2 linked regions of the Homo sapiens genome follow. The protein of the gene in region 1 purifies or fractionates together with the protein of each later gene. This does not show direct contact. Each region holds a gene or a part of one and is shown on either strand. Other genes may lie near its edges. The genes, in order: DRD5 and GNA12.

What was found.
Region 2: the proteins of DRD5 (region 1) and GNA12 purify together in Homo sapiens (affinity purification with western blotting, with the first as the bait; one study listed by BioGRID). This does not show direct contact.

What each region holds. Positions count from the first base shown.
Region 1 is NC_000004.12:9,780,283-9,784,568, forward strand, and holds DRD5 (D(1B) dopamine receptor), read left to right. Parts: upstream 1-1,351; 5' UTR 1,352-1,747; coding exon 1,748-3,181; 3' UTR 3,182-3,727; downstream 3,728-4,286. UniProt on the Homo sapiens protein: Dopamine receptor whose activity is mediated by G proteins which activate adenylyl cyclase.
Region 2 is NC_000007.14:2,792,153-2,795,961, forward strand, and holds part of GNA12 (guanine nucleotide-binding protein subunit alpha-12), read right to left. Parts: intron 2,992-3,809; coding exon 2,776-2,991; intron 1-2,775. UniProt on the Homo sapiens protein: Guanine nucleotide-binding proteins (G proteins) are involved as modulators or transducers in various transmembrane signaling systems. Activates effector molecule RhoA by binding and activating RhoGEFs (ARHGEF12/LARG).

The sequences.
Region 1 (4,286 bases):
GGAGGCACAATTCTGGACAGGGATGTCCATGGCCAGAGGAGTGGTCCAGCTCCCAGAAGATGAGGAGAGACCAGAGGTGAGGATGGCCCTTCAGTTTCAGGTTTAGGCACCTGGACAGATGGTCTTGCCCTCTCCAGCGGCAAAAAGCACTGAGGGGGAAGGAGGTTGGGGGAAGGGACTGTGTAGGCTGAGCAGCTTAAGTCTGAGAAGGTGGGCCACTTGCAGATGTTGGTCCAGGGTACAGGTGCGTTTGGTGGAGGGGGAGACTAGGAAGGGAGGAGAAAGTCCAGTCTGTTTCTAGACCTCACCATGCTGCAGGTGTCTGGGCCAGCAGGTCGCAGCCGGAGCTATGCAGCTGGCTGCTGTCACATCCCTTTCTCTCCCAGCTGCCTTCAGCTGAGCTTAACGCCAGTAGAGGCCGAAACACTTCACAAATGCAACTTGTCAGCTGGGAGGTGCACTCAGAGCTCAGGAACACTGTTTTCCCTCTTTATTGTTTTCCATCATTCTTTTTTTTCAGTTTGGGTTTTGGGCCCCGTCAGTTCCTTTTCTGTTAAACACTGAGCTATTTATCCATCCCTCTCAAGGTTGAAAAAGAGAAAGGCTGTAAAAGTGCCCTGCAAAGAAGAGGCCTCCAACTCTATGGGGGTGGGGGGCTCTCTTCCTCCTCTTGTCTTCTGAGTTCATTCCGAATTATTCCCCAAAGGAAAAATCGTTCAAGGACTGGGGGCGGTGGTGGGGAAAAGGACAATCTCCCAAGAGGTCAGCTGAAGCCCCAGCCTCAGGGTGTTGAGAGAGGGGCTGGGGGAAGCGGGAGCCTGTTCCTAGGAGACACTGTCTACTGGACACCTCATCCTAGACGGCTTCCATGAGTTCTGACACTGTCCCAGGAGTAGGAATCATTATCCCACGCTGTGGAGAAGGAAACCAAGGCCGGGTAAAGTTATGTAGGGCCCTTAAAGTCGCAGAGCCAGGAATAAAGTCCGGATTGGGACTCGGGTCTGTGGGTAATCCAAGGCTGCCCCGCTTACCCTTCAAATGCTCTTTCCCCCTCCGGAAGCCCTCGCGTCCTCATCCTTACCCCACCTCTTGTTCCCCAAGCGTGGCCAGGGCTAAGGCTCCAGGGATGCGCCAAGCACCCTTCGGTTTTCCCGGGGAGAATTTTCCCCGGCCCGGGGACTAGGGTCTGGCGCTGGGGCGCCCCTCGGACCTGCGGGATCGCCCCTACACTCTGGCGCGCTGAGGGCGGTGAGCGAGGGCGCCAAGGCACAGGTGGGGCGGGAGTCGAGCGCGGAGGCTCGGGGGGCGGGACGCGGGGCCTGGGAGCGGCCAGGGACCGCGGCAGCGCCTCAGTGCCAGCCTGGCGCCCGCGACTGCCTGCCCCAGCCCCTCAGTGGCGGCTTGCTCTCTTCTCTCGCTCCGAACCAGACACAGCCGCTGCCGCTGCCGTCCGGCGCGCTACAGACTCCCGAGAACAGCCCTGGCTGTCAGCGAGCACCAGCCGCTTCCTGTCCCCATCGCGGAGACTGGAGGGGCGCACCACGGCCATGGAGCCAGAGGCGCTTCAGGAGGCAAGAGAAGTCCCCGCGCGCTCCGCAGCCCGGCGCAGCTCATGGTGAGCGCCCTCTGGGGCTCGAGGGTCCCTTGGCTGAGGGGGCGCATCCTCGGGGTGCCCGATGGGGCTGCCTGGGGGTCGCAGGGCTGAAGTTGGGACCGCGCACAGACCGCCCCTGCAGTCCAGCCCGAAATGCTGCCGCCAGGCAGCAACGGCACCGCGTACCCGGGGCAGTTCGCTCTATACCAGCAGCTGGCGCAGGGGAACGCCGTGGGGGGCTCGGCGGGGGCACCGCCACTGGGGCCCTCACAGGTGGTCACCGCCTGCCTGCTGACCCTACTCATCATCTGGACCCTGCTGGGCAACGTGCTGGTGTGCGCAGCCATCGTGCGGAGCCGCCACCTGCGCGCCAACATGACCAACGTCTTCATCGTGTCTCTGGCCGTGTCAGACCTTTTCGTGGCGCTGCTGGTCATGCCCTGGAAGGCAGTCGCCGAGGTGGCCGGTTACTGGCCCTTTGGAGCGTTCTGCGACGTCTGGGTGGCCTTCGACATCATGTGCTCCACTGCCTCCATCCTGAACCTGTGCGTCATCAGCGTGGACCGCTACTGGGCCATCTCCAGGCCCTTCCGCTACAAGCGCAAGATGACTCAGCGCATGGCCTTGGTCATGGTCGGCCTGGCATGGACCTTGTCCATCCTCATCTCCTTCATTCCGGTCCAGCTCAACTGGCACAGGGACCAGGCGGCCTCTTGGGGCGGGCTGGACCTGCCAAACAACCTGGCCAACTGGACGCCCTGGGAGGAGGACTTTTGGGAGCCCGACGTGAATGCAGAGAACTGTGACTCCAGCCTGAATCGAACCTACGCCATCTCTTCCTCGCTCATCAGCTTCTACATCCCCGTTGCCATCATGATCGTGACCTACACGCGCATCTACCGCATCGCCCAGGTGCAGATCCGCAGGATTTCCTCCCTGGAGAGGGCCGCAGAGCACGCGCAGAGCTGCCGGAGCAGCGCAGCCTGCGCGCCCGACACCAGCCTGCGCGCTTCCATCAAGAAGGAGACCAAGGTTCTCAAGACCCTGTCGGTGATCATGGGGGTCTTCGTGTGTTGCTGGCTGCCCTTCTTCATCCTTAACTGCATGGTCCCTTTCTGCAGTGGACACCCCGAAGGCCCTCCGGCCGGCTTCCCCTGCGTCAGTGAGACCACCTTCGACGTCTTCGTCTGGTTCGGCTGGGCTAACTCCTCACTCAACCCCGTCATCTATGCCTTCAACGCCGACTTTCAGAAGGTGTTTGCCCAGCTGCTGGGGTGCAGCCACTTCTGCTCCCGCACGCCGGTGGAGACGGTGAACATCAGCAATGAGCTCATCTCCTACAACCAAGACATCGTCTTCCACAAGGAAATCGCAGCTGCCTACATCCACATGATGCCCAACGCCGTTACCCCCGGCAACCGGGAGGTGGACAACGACGAGGAGGAGGGTCCTTTCGATCGCATGTTCCAGATCTATCAGACGTCCCCAGATGGTGACCCTGTTGCTGAGTCTGTCTGGGAGCTGGACTGCGAGGGGGAGATTTCTTTAGACAAAATAACACCTTTCACCCCGAATGGATTCCATTAAACTGCATTAAGAAACCCCCTCATGGATCTGCATAACCGCACAGACATTGACAAGCACGCACACACACGCAAATACATGCCTTTCCAGTGCTGCTCCCTTTATCATGTGTTTCTGTGTAGTAGCTCGTGTGCTTAGAAACCTCACCCCATTGATTGGTAGTTCGAAGAATTGGCAGAAGCAGTTGCAATAAACTCAGTCAAATGTACCCAGCCTACCAGAGATGGACCAACGATCCTATGAGAGAAGAGAGTATGGTGCTGGGTCCTTAAAAAAAAAAATGATACTTGGTCCTTAAAAAATATGCTCTCCCCTCCCTTTTTAAACAAATGGCTTGTTCAGTCACTTGTTTGTGTTTGAATTGATTTTTAAACAGCAGGTTGTGTGTGTGTGCAGTGATGTGGTGGGAGCACAGCTTTCCTGGGTCTGGATTCCCGTGGCTTTGTGCTTATGTCATTTCTTCTCTCTGTGCTGGTGGGGGCCTCTTTACCATAGCTTAAGAAGTATCCCTGATTTATTCTGGTGTCTAATAAACACAGATTATTTGTATTATGGGGTGACTATCTTTGCTTTGCTACATTGGGTTTCAGGATTGCTTCTGAAGAAACGATGAGTGCATCCTTAAAATGCAAAGAAGATATTTGCTGGGTCTGGAAGTACATGCTTAATCTCTTTACAGTTTGGCCTTAAAGATACACCAGGGCAAAGGACCTTGAGGAGCTTCTGTTTTCTCAGGTTTCTTTTTATTACTTATACCCATGTTGGGTCTGTGCTGAAACCTGGCTTCAATGGCATGGCATTAGATCTTCTCAAGACCAGATGTTTTTTTTCTCATATGGAATCTTTTTTGAAGTAACATAAGACAACTCTCCTTATTCCTAGACAGATGCGATCAGTTCATTGAAAAGATCATGTAGAATAATATCTTGAATCTTTCTCCATCTGACAACTGTAGCATGTTTTAGAATGACATGGCTTTTGAGAAATCGTGTTTTCTGAAGAGCTTTGAAATGTGTGAATCAAGATGCTTTAAAAAAGAAACTCTATTTTTAAATAGGCATTTTCCTTAGTGGACAATAGCAAATAGGGAAATGCTTTTTAAGTAAAA
Region 2 (3,809 bases), on another chromosome or scaffold:
CTCATGTTTGGTCTTCTTCACTGCTATATCCCCAGCATGTAGCACCGGGTCTCACACAGTAGGTGATCCATGAATGCAGAATGAATGAATGAATGAGTGAAGAAGGGGAGAAACAAGCAGACTGGGCTTTGAGGCCCAAATTTCTCACAGTGATTACCAAGATGATGTGGCCTCAGGCACAGCATAACTGGTACGGGCTTACTTCCATGTCGTGACAATACAAGGGCTTGACTTCCTAAATTGGGAGGTCCCTTCCAGCACTGACACCCTGCACTGACGGAACAGGGCAAAGACAGAAGCCTGTCAAAGCTGCTGCACCATGCCGAATCCCAGACAGAAGCCTCACTCAGTACGATCAGCCCCAGACACTTCTGCTTCCTTCTTTGGAAAATCCTCAATTTCCATCCAAGTTCTAAATGAATGAGAATCTTCTTTCCCAGACTCTGTGAGTGTATGGGGAAAAGGTGTAAACCTCAATTTCACATTGAGATACTGACATGTATTTCCCAATTGTTTCTTCCAGCCCTGCTCTTTAGGAGATTAAAATTTCCTTTCTACCGCAACCACATCTTCCACTCTCTTTTGATTCTTTTACCTTAACTGTTAAAGTTAACTTGAGAAGGAATGTGCAGATGGAAAGGGGCTAGTAAAAACGTCATCCTTAAGATGCCCTGGAGGACATTAACATTTACAGGCAAAAGCCTGAGGAGAAACAGGCTATTTGCAGGGTCTCAATGTATCTCCCTAAGATATGTGTTAACAACACAGAGAAAATACTGACTTCCCAGTGGAGAAAGGTGGCCAACAGTGCCTCAACCAAGCAACCCAGGCTTGCATCACCAGCCACTGGACAATATCACGCACTTCCTGATCAGATGATCTGAGCAGGGCTCAACGGCACGCCTGCGGTTTCTGTGCCAAAAAAATGCATCCCCTCATCCTGATGACGAGAAAATACCAGACAAACCCAAACAGGAAGATTCTACACAATACCTGGCCAGTGCTCTGGACATGTCAAGGTCATGAAAGGCAAGGAAAGATCAAGGAGCTATCATGGACTGCAAGAGACCAAGGGGACACAATGACTAAACACAATGGGGGATTCCAGGCCAGGATCCAGCAGACAGGAGCGCGAGAGGAAGCAGCGGACAGGACGCGAGAGGAAGCAGCGGACAGGACGCGAGAGGAAGCAGCGGACAGGAGCGCAAGAGGAAAGGTGGGTCACATTCAGACAAGGTCTACAGTTAATTGATGCTTTCATACCGATGTCAACTTCTTAGTTTTAATAGTTGTATAGTGGTTAAGATGTTAACATTAGGGGGACTTGGGAGAAGAATATAAGGAAATTGAACTGAGGGGACTATTAGCAGACTATATAGCACCTCTCAGATGATTGAGAAAAATAAAAATTACTCTGCAGGAAAAGGATGGGTAAAAGATATGAATAGGGTGGGGCATGGTGGCTCACACCTGAAATCCCAGCACTTTGGGAGGCCGAGGCGGGTGGATCACCTGAGGCCAGGAGTTCGAGACCAGCCTGGCCAACATGGTAAAACTCCATCTCCACTAAAAAATATAAAAATTAGCTGGTGTGGTGGTGGGTGCCTACAGTCTCTGCTACTCGGGAGGCTGAGGTGGGAGAATCACTTGAATCCAGAGGTGGAGGTTGCAGTGAGCTGAGATGGCGCCACTGCACTCCAGGCTGGGCAACAGCGCGAGACTCCATCTCAAAAAAAAAAAAAAAAAGGAAAAAAAAAGACGTTTCCAATAGCAAAATATGAAAAACAGTTCAAAAGTACCTCAATGAAAGAAGGAATGGATCCTAGTATCTTTCCACAGTGGAGCATCAGACAGCAGTGAAAAGGGAAGAACCGCTGCTATGTGCCTCGCCTGATGAAATTCCAACATGTGGAGTGAAAAAGGCAAGTCACAGAAGCATATATACTATACACTAAGAAATGACTTATATGAAGGTTAAGAATCAGTAAAACTCAAGACTGTCGTGTTTACAAATAATAAATGGGTATTATGGCAAAATCATAAGAACGGCAAAGGATTCATGACTTCAACTTGACTCTGGGTGCTAAGGGGGCAAACGGCTGTGAGAGTGAGAGGCATTTCTGGATACCCTGGGTGTGTATTAATATCAGCTGTGCACATTTATGCTGGTTATCAGAAAAATTGTACATTTTACTTTATATACGGTTAATTTTGAAAGGTAGAAAAAAACAAAAAGCAAACAGGCAAAACCCCCCAGATTTTCTGGTTATAGATTCAGACCCCAAATGAATCTAAATAACTGGGCTTTGTGAAGTTTTTAGACCTTAAAACGAAAGGAACAAATCTGAAGGGAACAACTGGGAGGAGTTGGATTTGCTTCCGAGGCGCTGATCTGAAGGCGTTCGTGAGTTGCCCATACCCACAGGTCCAAAGTGGGAAGCTGTTGTGGGGGGTGTTATTTCCTACTATGAACAAGATCTCTAAAAAAAACTAAATTTCTCGGGTTGTGCCAATGCTGATGATTCTAAGAACCCTCCGTATTCCCAGAAGAAAGCTATTGATCTTACCTGAGTGGCTCTTGCTCCTTCCCCTCTTGAGCCTTTTATATAGCATCTGCCTCCATCCCGTGTTTTGGTTGTTGATCATTACAACTTACGGTGATTTAGAGCTTGCTTGGACTGTTACACAGTTTTTAAGGAAATTCAACTAACGGTCCAAAATAGTCATGTAAAAAACACACTATCAGGTGCCCAGCAAGAAGGCCTACTCACTCACCAGCTGAAACTCGCTTCTCCGGCTGAAAGCCTCCCTGATGCCAGAATCCCTCCAGAGTGCGCTCAGGGCCGGGACGTACAGCTGGAAGGTGGCCGGCTCCACAGGCAGCCCCGCCTTGTTCTCGAAGGCCATCAGGAACATCCCATGCTTCTCATTTTCAGAATACTGCCAAGGAATGCCAAGCTTATCTCGTGCATCAACAAGAACCCTTGAGCCCTAGAAAATAAAAGAAAGAAGAGAGGATTTAATTGCATTCCAAAGACTAAACCACGCTAGAGAAGCTCAAAATGGGCATCCATTGTCATAACGCAGAAAACTCACAAGCTCTGAGCTGTGCAGCCTGAGTCTGTCTCTTGGTTTGTTTGTTGTGATGTGGAAAGTCTTAACTCTCAGCAGTATAACCTCACCAAGACAGACGCACATGGCCGAGAGCAGTGGCTCACACTGTGAGCCTCCCCTTTGGGAGGCCAAAGAGGGAGGACTGCTGGAACACAGGAGTCTGAGACCGGCCTGGGCAACAGAGCAAGACCCTGCTTCTACAAAAAATTAAATCAAATTAAAAACAGCTGGGCTTGGTGGTGGCACACCTGTAGTCTCAGCTGAGCGGGGAGGATTGCTTGAGCCCAGGAGGTCAAGGCTACGGTTATCTATGATTGCTGCACTATATTCTAGGCTGGGCAACAGAGCAAGACCCTGTTTCAAAAAAAAAAAAAGAAAAGAAAAAAGAAAAAAAAGAAAACAGATGTACATAAGCACCACAGAAAGAAGTCTGCTTTCTGCTATCATTCATTTGCAAAGCTACTGGAAAAAAGACAACTGGGCGGGGAGGAGGTGGCAACAATTTCAGAAAATTTCACTGGAAAATGAAGTGTATCAGTAAAAAAACAACTTTTTTTTTTTTTTTTTTCTTAGATGGAGTTTCACTCTTTTTGCCCTGGCCTGGAGTGCAATGGAGTGATCTCGGCTCACTGCAACCTCCGCCTCCCAGGTTCAAGCAATTCTCCTGCCTCAGCCTCCTAAGTAGCTAGGATTAC